Regions from separate parts of the Homo sapiens genome. Here region 2 is linked to region 1. Evidence: fine-mapped expression QTL. A gene starts in region 1. The other region holds a variant in brackets. All regions are shown on one strand. Distances are from middle to middle.

Region 1 (5,376 bases):
TCCTCCATTGACAGTTAGAAATTATGTGATTTGTCATGCGCTTGGATTGTGTTATTAGTATTATAATAATTACTATAAATATTAATAAAGTATTATTATCAGCGTTATTTCTTCTTCCGAGACTTTCCTCGCCCAATATTTACAAATACCGCACAGTGCCTCGGCGGAGGAGAAACAAGAGTAAGGGGAGGGCAGGTAAGGAAACCAGGAAGAGGAAAGAGGGGCCAGAGGAAAATGGAAAAGGAAGGAAGAAGGAAAAAAGCAAGGGTGGCAAAGATGCTGGAAACGAGGACGGGGAACGAGAGGGGCTAGACGATCAGGACAGTACCACCGTTTGCAAAAGGCCCTCGCCAGCTGTGTCCAAACAGGAGGAAGCTGCGTGTGCTCCTTGGGGACTGGAGGCTGGCGGTGGAGGCGGAGGAGCACAGGGACCCTGGCACGGGAGGCCAGGGGACGAAGAGGACAACGACGAGGCGTTGGAAGGGGCGCAGAAGGGAGAGTCCCGGGGCTGCCTCTCCAGCCGGGTTTCCTTTGCGTGGGTTGGGGCCTGCCTGCCAGGTCGGGGCAGCCCCCCGCCACCGCGGCTGCCGCTGCAGTGATCCCGCTCATATTCCTCCTGAGCCCTCTGCATCTTCCGCTTCTTCATCCTACGCTTGTGGATGTGGAAAGTGGAGAGGGACAGCACGATGAGGCAGAAGATGAGGGTAACCAGGACAATCAGCACCAGCGTGGAGGAGAAGGACTGGAAGAGCTGCTGTCCCACCTGCGTGATGCAGGTGCCGCTGCCTACTGCGCCTGGGCCGCGGGCACCCGTGTTGCCGCTGCCGCTGGCGTTGGGGGAAGCAAAGGTCCGGTTGAGGAGACACGGCGGCAACGCCAGCCTCAGCTCCTTCGGCGCCCTGGCACTCATTGGCGCGGGGCTGGGAGGGGCCAGGCCCACTAGGCTTCCCCTCTTGGGCACACCGTTCCTACCAGCCAAGAAGAGGACGGAGCCCACGCCACCCAAAACTGCTCCCTGTAGCGGGAGGGGGTGTGCGAGCGAGCCAAGGACTAAGGGAGCAACTGCTGGCAAGCAAGGCGACCAAGGAGTGAGCGGCGCCCGAGAGATCCTCGCCGATACCACCTCGAACACGTCTCCACGCTCCCCTTTCCTTTGCAGAGGCACCAGGCTGCAAAGACACAAAGCTTAGTTAGAATCTCGGCCGCTGCCCAGGGGAGTGCTGTCGGGAAAGATCAACCACCACCGCAAAGCGGCCCTCTGGGCACACTGCCTGAGCTGGGCGCTGCCTGTATTTTCGGTCAGCGGACCCCAGCCTGCCGGCCCGTGGCCGTGCACCAGAGCCACCAGCAGCCTGCTCATGCCACTCGACAGGATGGGGTCTGCGCCGGCACCGCGGAGGTGCAGATTACTCAGCAGATAAGGCAGCCTCCCTTCCGCCCTTCACAACTTTATAATTGCAACAGACACGCAGCCGCTTTGGTTGAAGTCCCTACTTCCCAGAGCGCCGGCTCTCCTCTTTTCTGCGCCCTCTCGGTTGATGTCTTCGCCTGGATCCTACCCTTCCCAGCACCCACTCCGGGCCGCCGCGCGGGCTCCGGGTACGCAGTCCTCCCTTCCTTTCCCTCCCCGTCCAGACTCGCCCTCCCTGGACAGCGTCAGATCCCTTGGGTCCCATTCCCAGGGGGATACCCCTGGCACCACATCCCACTCTGCCTCTGTCCGCGACCGCGGCTGACGCGCAGGAACGCGCTCCATCTCTTCTCCAGCCTTCTTCCCTGGTATTCTCCCCTCTCCAAAAAAAAAAAAAAAAAAAAAAAAAAGCAGCTGAAGCATCTTTCTCAGCTGACACATTCCCACAAACGGCCCCCTCCTCCCCATTTCCCTGTGCCCCCAACTTGGCAGTAGCCTGCTTCTTTCTAGAGGAGCTGGAATGGAAAGGGGAGGGTTCCCGCCTGCAAAGTTTGGGGAACGGGACCTTCTTTCTGTCCTTCCCAGACCCAGCCCAAAGGCCCCGAGGCTTTTCCGGCATACTGGAGCCGGTAGACCCGCAGCGCACAGGAGAGCCTCCTTGCTGCTCCCAAGAGGCAGCTGCAAACTGTTGCACTGCGGAGTAGCGAGGTAGCGCGCAAGCAAGCCAGGGCAGGGGCCGGGGGCAGGGGCGGGGGCTGGAGCTATGGCCAGGGGTGGCTGCTCAGGCCGCGTGAGCTGTCCTCCCCACTCGCACCTGGCCGTCAGGCCACCCGGCCATCAGAAGCCTTTACTCACACCTTGTCTCTTACCTGGACCGCCGGCTGGCTGCAAGGAGGGAGCCCCCGCCGCGCGGCTGCAGTGGCGGCTGCAGAAAGCGTGGAGTGAATGGACCAGAGACCGAGCCGCGCTGCTGCCGCCGCCGCCGCCGCCGCCGCCGCCTTCGCCGCCGCTTCAGGGAGCTGAGCTCGCAGCCTATTGCCAGAGAGGCCGGTGACGTCAGGCAGCCACCGCCAGGGCTCCAAGCCACCCCTCAGGCCCCCACCCACCCTAGTACCCCAACACCTTGTCCTAGCATAGCGAGCCTCTGACACACACTTCCCAGTTCCCTGCCCTTCTCCAGCCCAGGAACTAGGAGGAGCAACCCCTACCTCCACCCTGCAAGCAACCCACCTTTCTCACTCTCTTGCCTAGGAAGAGTTGAATCTTCAGTTCTCCAGCTGTCTGATTTCGTTCTAGAGCTGACCCTTTGGTCCCAGAATCACATTTTTACACTCTGGATAGCCATCTACCATCGGTGCACACATCACCGGTGGTGATGAAAATTTCCCCCACCGCTAATTCCTCTCTGTGCTGCCCGTTTCTGAACATAAACTGCGTGCATTAGAGAGATGGCAGGGACGTTTCTCAACATAAGTGTGACAGAACCCAAAACACAAACCTGAACAAATTAAACAATCCAAATTAGCCATTTTTCTCCACTGGAGTTTCCAAGTTATCTTTCGCTCCATCTGATTCAAGATCCTCCTTCTTGCATCCCTCACATCTTCATCTCCAGGCCCCAGACCCACTCAATGTATTAAACACTCCTTCTATTCTGACAATCTAGACACTCATGAGCACACAAACCCTAGTCTTACAAGGAAGAAATATGAAATTATTCACAGGAAGGCAGAAATGAACTGCCTTATGAAAATTCCAAGTATTTGTAGCTTGCACAAAGTACCCCTTCATTGACCCTAATTCTTGGTAAAGTGTTTGGAGCACAACTTTTAGCAAAATACATAGAACTTCCAGAAAAGAATTCAACAGCCTCCCTAAATCTTGGAAGAGACTAGTTAACTATTGGTTTAGGAGCCTTGGAAAAATATGAATAGTGCATTTGGTTACAGAATCCAGCTTTGAAATGGAGTATGCTCATTTTTCTGTTGGAGAAGCTAGCTGGGAACAGTACCTAAAGACATTGCATGGTCTTTGAAGGCACTCAGGTGTCTTACTAAACGTGCGTTTTCTTCTTTGCTCCCTGTCTTCTTTTCTATCTTTGAGTCTAGCACAGTGCCTGTAGTTTACTTGATAAATTGAATGATACAGTGTATGTTGTTGCTCTTTCCTGCAATGCATCAGAAATGACTGATGCCCAGTTATCTGCTTGTATTTGCTGTATTTGTAAAGAAAGAGGGTCTGATATGTGGAGGAAAGGCTGTCTGTAATCTGGGGGTCCCTTCTTCGGACTCTGTGTTTAGGGTCATACAGTTACTGATGTCTGCCCCCCGCCCCCACCCCAATGCTAGCCTCACCTTCCTGACTGGAATGAGAGCACCAGATGCCTGCAATAGCCACCTGCCACATTTGGACAATTTGACTTTGGTGGGCTTAGGGGATGGAATGGTGAGCCTTTTTATTTATTTATTTATTTTTTACGCTGTGACTAAGTGACACTTTACCATTGATGCCTGACAGGCAATGTCCCATTTTTTCACACTCGCTTTGCTCCTGAAAAGTTGAGTCTAATAAACATTTTGTAAAGCAAATCCAATTTTGGATTCTCCAAAAAGAGATCTGGCTATTTCAAGAGACTCTTTAGCAAAAAATAAAAAATTTTTTAAAAAATGTTATTTTGTAAAGCAAAGAATTTTTATGCAATTAGAATTAACTCTTGGCCAGGCACGGTGGCTCATGCCTGTAATGTCAGCACTTTGGGAGGCTGAGGCAGGTGGATCACCTGAGGTCAGGAGTTAGAGGTCAGCCTGGCCAACATGGTGAAACCCTGTCTCTACTAAAAATAACAAAATAAATAAATAAATAAATAAATAAATAAATAAATAAATAAATAAAAGCCGGGCATGGTGACAGGCACCTGTAATTCCAGCTACTCGGGAGGCTGAGACAGGAGAATGGCTTGAATCTGGGGGACAGAGGTTGCAGTGTGCCAAGATTGTGCCATTGCACTCCAGCCTGGGCAACAAGAGTGAAGCTCCATCTCAAAAAAAAAAAAAAATTAACTCTCAGTCGTCTGTTTTCTAGATTTGAAGGAATTAGTTATTGGGCTTTCCCTATGGGGAATATACCTTTACAACATGTTGTAATGGGATTACAATATGTATGTAATGGGATTCTTCTTGCACACCAAGCTTCTAGGACATGTCAGAAGGCTTCCAATGTTATTCTTTTGTTACAAATGATAGCCATCTGTTATACCAGGAGTGCTAAAGCTGTGTGCATTATTTTATACACCCTATGAAAAGACAAGATCTTAATCTGGAGAACTTATACTCTACAGCAGATAAATGTGATTCACCAGAAAATGGTATTTAACTAGCAATGATTTAGGTAGATTAAAGACATTAGTTTTCAGATCAAAAGCATAGTACCCTTTTTTGTCTTTTCTCTTTCAAGAATAGGCAGTAGGTTCATAATTTATTCTTACCCAGAGGACAAATGTACTAAATACGTAGATTTGGATGTCATTGGGTAGTGTGTTTTAAACCCAAGGAAGAGCAATGACAGCAAATATGGGCACCTCTTGGACTGCAGGAATTGATCCCACTGAGTTGCCACATGATTTTTGGCACATCTGGCTGAATGGCAAGGCTTCTTCCAGACAACACCATTGTTGCCACTATTTTCGCCACCAAACTTCACAAGCCACACTCCCAAGAGTAGAGAACCAAGAAGCTCCTGAGATTCCTATAATCTTCCCTTGTAATGGGAAAGCCCCTCTGGACATAAGCATGTTCCAAATATTTAAGAGCATTTAATATTTGCTTTCAAGTTTAATGAAGAATCTCGATCTAACTTAGATAAAAGTGCCACATGGGCACCTGTACCTAAATCTAAGCAGCATTGAATCAATAATAATAATAGCTATTATCCTTATTTGCAAAACACCTACTATGTACCAGGCTATA
Region 2 (5,376 bases), 38 kb after region 1:
ATGCTGTCATTACTTCTACAAAAATAAAAATGGACAACCGATGTTTTGCCCCTGAGTAGACTAGAATGGCTCCTAGAGATACTTCTGAGCAGGGTCCCATCTTTCAGTGTTTCTGTTTTCCAAACTGACCCAGTAGTGTACAATTTAAATAAAGATACCTTTACCTGTCCATCTTCATTAACCACAGCTACCTAGTGGTGCCACTACATAGGCCTTAAAATGGCTGGGAATGTGGAAATAGTCATTGTTTACTCCAAACTGATGGCATCCCTTGGAACTACTCTCATCCAGACCATCCTTGGAACCTAATGCTGGGTTATCTGTTGGTATATAGTAAGGGTGAAAATAATACGCCGCAAGTGACAAACGTGAAAAGATGCTCCACATCATGTTATCAAGGAAATGCAAATCAAAACAACAGTGAAATATTACCTTACACTTATTAGAATGGCCAAAATCCAGAATACTGAAAACACTAAATGCTGGTGAGAATGTGGAGCAATGAAATCTCATTCATTGCCGTCAGGGATGCAAAATGGTACAGCCACTTTGGAGGGCAGTTTGGCAGTTTCTTATAAAAGTAAACATACTCTTACCATACAATCCAGAAATTGTGCTCCTTGGTATTTACCCAAAAGAAGTGAAGGCTTATGTCTATGCAAAAGCCTGCACACAAATGTTTATAGCAGCTTTATTTATAATTGCTAAAACTTGGAAGAAACTGAGATGTCCTTCAGCAGGTGAATGGATAAACTGTGGTACATCCAGACAATGGAATATTATTCAGTGCTATAAAGGAGTGAGCTATCAAGCCATGAAAAGACATGAAGGGAATCTTAAATGCATATTACGAAGTGAAAGAAGCCGATCTGAAAAGGTTATATACTGTATAGTTCCAACTATATGACATTCCAGAAAAGACAAAACTACAGAGCAATGAAAAGATCAGTGGTTGCCAGTGGCTAATGGATAAAGAAGGATGAACAGGCAGAGCACAGGGAATTTAGGGTGGTGAAAATACTCTGATACTACAACGGTGGATACATGTCATTAAACATTTGTCAAAAAACCCATAGAATGTACGACACTAAGTGTGAATCCTAATGTAAACTATGTGTTTGGATTATAATGATGTGTCAATGTAGGTCCAGCAGTTATAAGAAACGTACCACTGTGGTGGGGGATGTTGATAATGGGAGGAGCTACAAATGTGGGGGCACAGACTATGGGGAATCTCGGTACTTTCCTCGCAATTTTGCTGTGAACTTAAAACTGCTCCAAAATATGCTGTGAAAATAACAGATAAACCAATATTAATTTGGGTCCAGCTATCTGTCTGTCATTGGCATAAGTGCTAGGGGTGGAGAGCACAATGATAAAGTATAGTTCTACTTTTCAAGCAGAAGCTTATCCATTCAGGTGGATGCAGCATATCTACATGGGAATGGGATATTGCAATACATGAAGAATTCCATGAGAGTTTGCATTCTTGGTCAGCAAATATTCTTCTCCTCCCACTGTGGGAAGAGTAGACTTCTATGCCCAGCTGATCTCGGGCTTGGCCACATAACTTGCTCTGGTCTTAAAGTGAATGTGATTTGAGCAGAAGCCTTAAGAGTATTTGTGTGTTTGGCTTGGTTTTTTTCACACTCAGTGGTCTGCCAAGAGAAGATACCCCAGGTAATCACTGCCCCTTTAACCTGGGCCCCCAAATAAACATGCATGGGGCAGATTTGAGCCCAACTTCTCATCTGGAGCCAATCTCAGTTAACTCTTAGCATGCAGCAGAGCTGCCCAGATGAGCCCATCCTAAATCAGTTGAATCAATCACTATTGAACTGTGGACGCTTAAGCTTAAGAATGCTTGTTTAAGCCACTGATCTTTCAGCAGTTTCTCATACAGCAATTACACGCCAATACCAACACCAAAACAAGGAGCATGTAATAATAAGTGTGTGTGTTTATGATCAAAATTGGCTTTAAAAAGAGATAGAAATTGAAGTAGAGAGTGGGAAAGAAAATTTTTAATTGCTTAAAAGAAGACAGATGTTATCCCAGGTAAAAGGAATGGCATGAGCAAAGCTAGGTAGGTAGCTGGAAATGGCAAGGTGCCTTGGGGGCCCAGTGAACAGACCATTTTGACAGAAGCCAAAGATTTTTACATCTTTTTTGTTTTGGTATAAACTGCAAAGGTAAGTTGGGATAAACCTCTAGAAGACTTTGAATATAAATCTAAGGAAATCTGACATGTAACCTCAGAGAAATGGTTAAGAAAGTCTGCAACTGCTTTTGTGATTTGGGGATAAACAAGCAACTTCAAGCAAACCTCTTTACACATGTATTAGAAACAGAAAACAGAGGGAATTCTTAGGGAAAGAGATTTCAAAAATGAGAAGAAATAAATTGTTTTAGACATAATGAAATGAATTTTGGGTGAGACATCCTGTTCTGTTGTGTTATGTGTTTATTTTAAAAAGGAAGCTCAGTATAATTCTAATGAAGATATTTTTCAAGGTTCAGAAGATGGACATTTGAATCAAGATAGAGATCAATAAAGGAGGCTGAATTAAACATCAGTCTGTAAATTGCCAAAACATAGACTGTTCTGAATCATCTACTTGTTAGTGATAAGAAGGGTGGCAGGAAGTAGTGGAATGAGACTTCAAGGCTCGATTTTTGAGGTTTTCAGAGCTACAGGAGCTGCTATGTGCCAAATGATGTGTTCCCTTAC[A/T]GAAAGAAATCACCAAAACAGGTCCCAGAGCAAAAATCTTAATCCCTTTTGCAATGAACTCCCTAATCCTATAGCAAATGTAACCAGTGAAGTTCAAGCAAGAAGGACAGGGACAGTTTGAGTCAGGATTTCATTAGAGACACAAAAGGCTCCAGTTCACAATTGCAAATGACAATCTCATTCTGTCAGTCAGAGGTAGGTAAGAAAGGGCATTTTAAACACAGTTCTTTCCTGGGGAAAACTGCTAAGAAAAAAAGAACATACCCAGATGGCCAGCGCCTAAGGGAATATGAGATGGGACAAAAGGAAGTCAGGCAAGAAAAGATAAAATAAATTCCACATGCACTGCTTCTTATTGCCATTTCTTCTTTGTATAGTTGCTATGGGAACTGTGTTTTGGAAGCTCTCTAAACCTGTCTACTCAGTGCAAAGTGATCAAGCATTTGGGCTGAAATGACCAGTCAATCTAAGCCAACTGGTTTGATTTATTTCCAACTCATGCTCCCCCTCAACTCTAGCCAAATTGAGGAGCTGCCTAGCTGAATTCAGTGTCATCTTGCAGAAATAAAGCTGGTTTACCTGTTGTATATATTTGCATTCTTGCCTAATAATAATAAGATGATGATGCCCTTGGGATATGTCTTCCCCTACTAGGACCCCATTCGTTCTGGGATTACTAGCAGCTCTAGAAGGGGATAAAGTGGGTGGGAAGGCAGGAAAAGACTAGTTGAATAATTCATACACTTTTATCAGGGATATAGGCATACAAGCAAACTGAGGAGCAGGGAAAAGTACTGCATTAGAGACCCAGTAGCCAGGCAGAAAAGAACCAGGACGGAATAGTTGCCCAAGGCAAGGCAGAGCTGAGAGACAGATGGAGGCACCAAGAGGAGACCTGGGCAGTGAGGCCATCTTACCCAGGACAGAGGCTGCACATCAAGCTGCTGCCTAGGCTGTTACCAAACTGAGGGCTTACTCTAGCATCCCCCACTGCTGCCATTCCATGGGAATCCAGTCGCTCTTCTCTAAGTCCAGCTGCAGATCACTGGCCCGCATCCTCCACCTGGCCCTGGCTTGACATTAGGCCATGCTTCCAGATGGTTGATCGAAACACAGTTGTTCATTTCTGTCAGATTCTCCCAAGCTCATGCCCTGGGCACCTTTGCTGATTGCACTGAAGAACTATTCCCTCCCATCCCAAACCCCATCTGTCAACCCAACATGCAACATGAGGCTTCTAAGTTCTCTTCTCTTAGTGTATTATCTGTTGTCTGCCTAAGATGTCACCTTGGCTTCTCCAAGATCAGAACCCCTGGTAAACCAAGAATCAGAATGCTGCCTGCAGCCTAGTCAGTGTCAGTGTTTTACAGTCTCTCCCTCTTTGGCCAAAGAAGAAAAGAACAAAAAGGAATGACCTTTTATTAATGGAAAGCTGCAGAAATTATAAAACCAATATTCATCTACAAATTTCTGGGTAGGAAATACTGGAGATGTATGAGTCTTTCACAAACAGAACTGGCCTTTGATGTCATGAAGTGGGTTTGAAACTCTTTTCTTTTTATATATGTTGTCTTACACCCTAGTTGCCAGGTGCCCAAGACCATGGAAGCCCACCCCTTGCATCATCGTGCCCTGGATGTAAGTCATGGAGTCAAAGGAGATCATTTCAGAGCTTTAATATTTAACGACTGCCCCACTGGGTTTTGGACTTGCATGGGGTCTGTGGCCCCTTTGTTTTGGCCTGTTTCTCCCATTTGGAATGGGAACATTTACCCAATGCCTGTACCCCCATTGTATCTTGGAAGTAACTAACTTGTTTTTGATTTTACAGACTCATAGGCAGAAGGAACTTGCCTTGTCTGAAATGAGACTTTGGACTTGGACTTTTGTGTTAATGCTGGAATGAGTCGAGACTTTGGGGAGCTGTTGGGAAGGCATGATTGCATTTTGAAATGTGAGAAGGACATGAGATTTGGGAGGGGCCAGGATGGAACAATATGGTTTGGCTCTGTGGTCCCCACCCAAATCTCATCTCGAATTGTAATCCCCACATGTGGAGGGAGGGATCTGGTGGGAGGTGATTGGATCACAGGGGCGGTTTCCTCCATGATGTTCTGGAGTGAGTTCTCACAAGAGCTGGCTGTTTGATAGGGGTCTGCTGCTTCCCCTCTCTCTCTCTCTCCTGCCACTATGTAAGATGTGCCTTGCTGCGCCTTTGCCTTCCACCATGATTGTAAGTTTCCTGAGGCCTCTCCACCCATGTGGAACTGTGAATCAATTAAACCTCTTTTGTTCATAAATTACCCAGTCTCAGGTAGTATCTTTATAGCAGTGTGAGAAGGGACTAATACAGCAGGACCCTTTCTTGCTCCCCAACACCACAGATCCTCCAATCACATGACCTATGATGAAGCAACTTTATGCTGCCACTACCTCATTTTCTTTATCAAATTAGGCTGCCCCTGTGCCCCCATTTTCTCAGAGACAGGGCTCTTCTTCAGAGAAATGGGTGATAATTGAAAAATTAGATAAAATGTCTTTCCCCAGACAAATTATTTCATGACAATCCCTCTTATTACAATTGTGGAAAATACTTCAGAAAAGAAATTCACAAATTCCTAATGATGAATCAGATAAATTGAAGA

Direction of the effects. Alleles are on the strand shown, and positions count from the first base shown. SD is a standard deviation of normalised expression in the study named.
With allele A in place of T in region 2, the expression in gastroesophageal junction of the gene that starts at base 2,354 in region 1 is lower (moderate effect, 0.69 SD a copy in GTEx).

The links. PIP is the estimated chance that this variant, and not a neighbour inherited with it, causes the effect.
Region 2: its variant is the best candidate, but not a certain one, in a credible set for the expression of C11orf87 in gastroesophageal junction (GTEx, PIP 0.59).

The regions. Positions count from the first base shown.
Region 1 is chr11:109,419,168-109,424,543 of GRCh38, reverse strand. C11orf87 (chromosome 11 open reading frame 87) reads right to left here and starts at 2,354. Exons shown (of 2, transcript NM_207645.4): 1 at 2,281-2,354; 2 at 1-1,169. The coding sequence starts at 910. The coding sequence ends at 317.
Region 2 is chr11:109,381,209-109,386,584 of GRCh38, reverse strand. No RefSeq gene overlaps it. Among named protein-coding and RNA genes, the nearest start is that of C11orf87, 38 kb to the left of the region's middle. The variant A/T (reference allele first, on the strand shown) is at 2,732.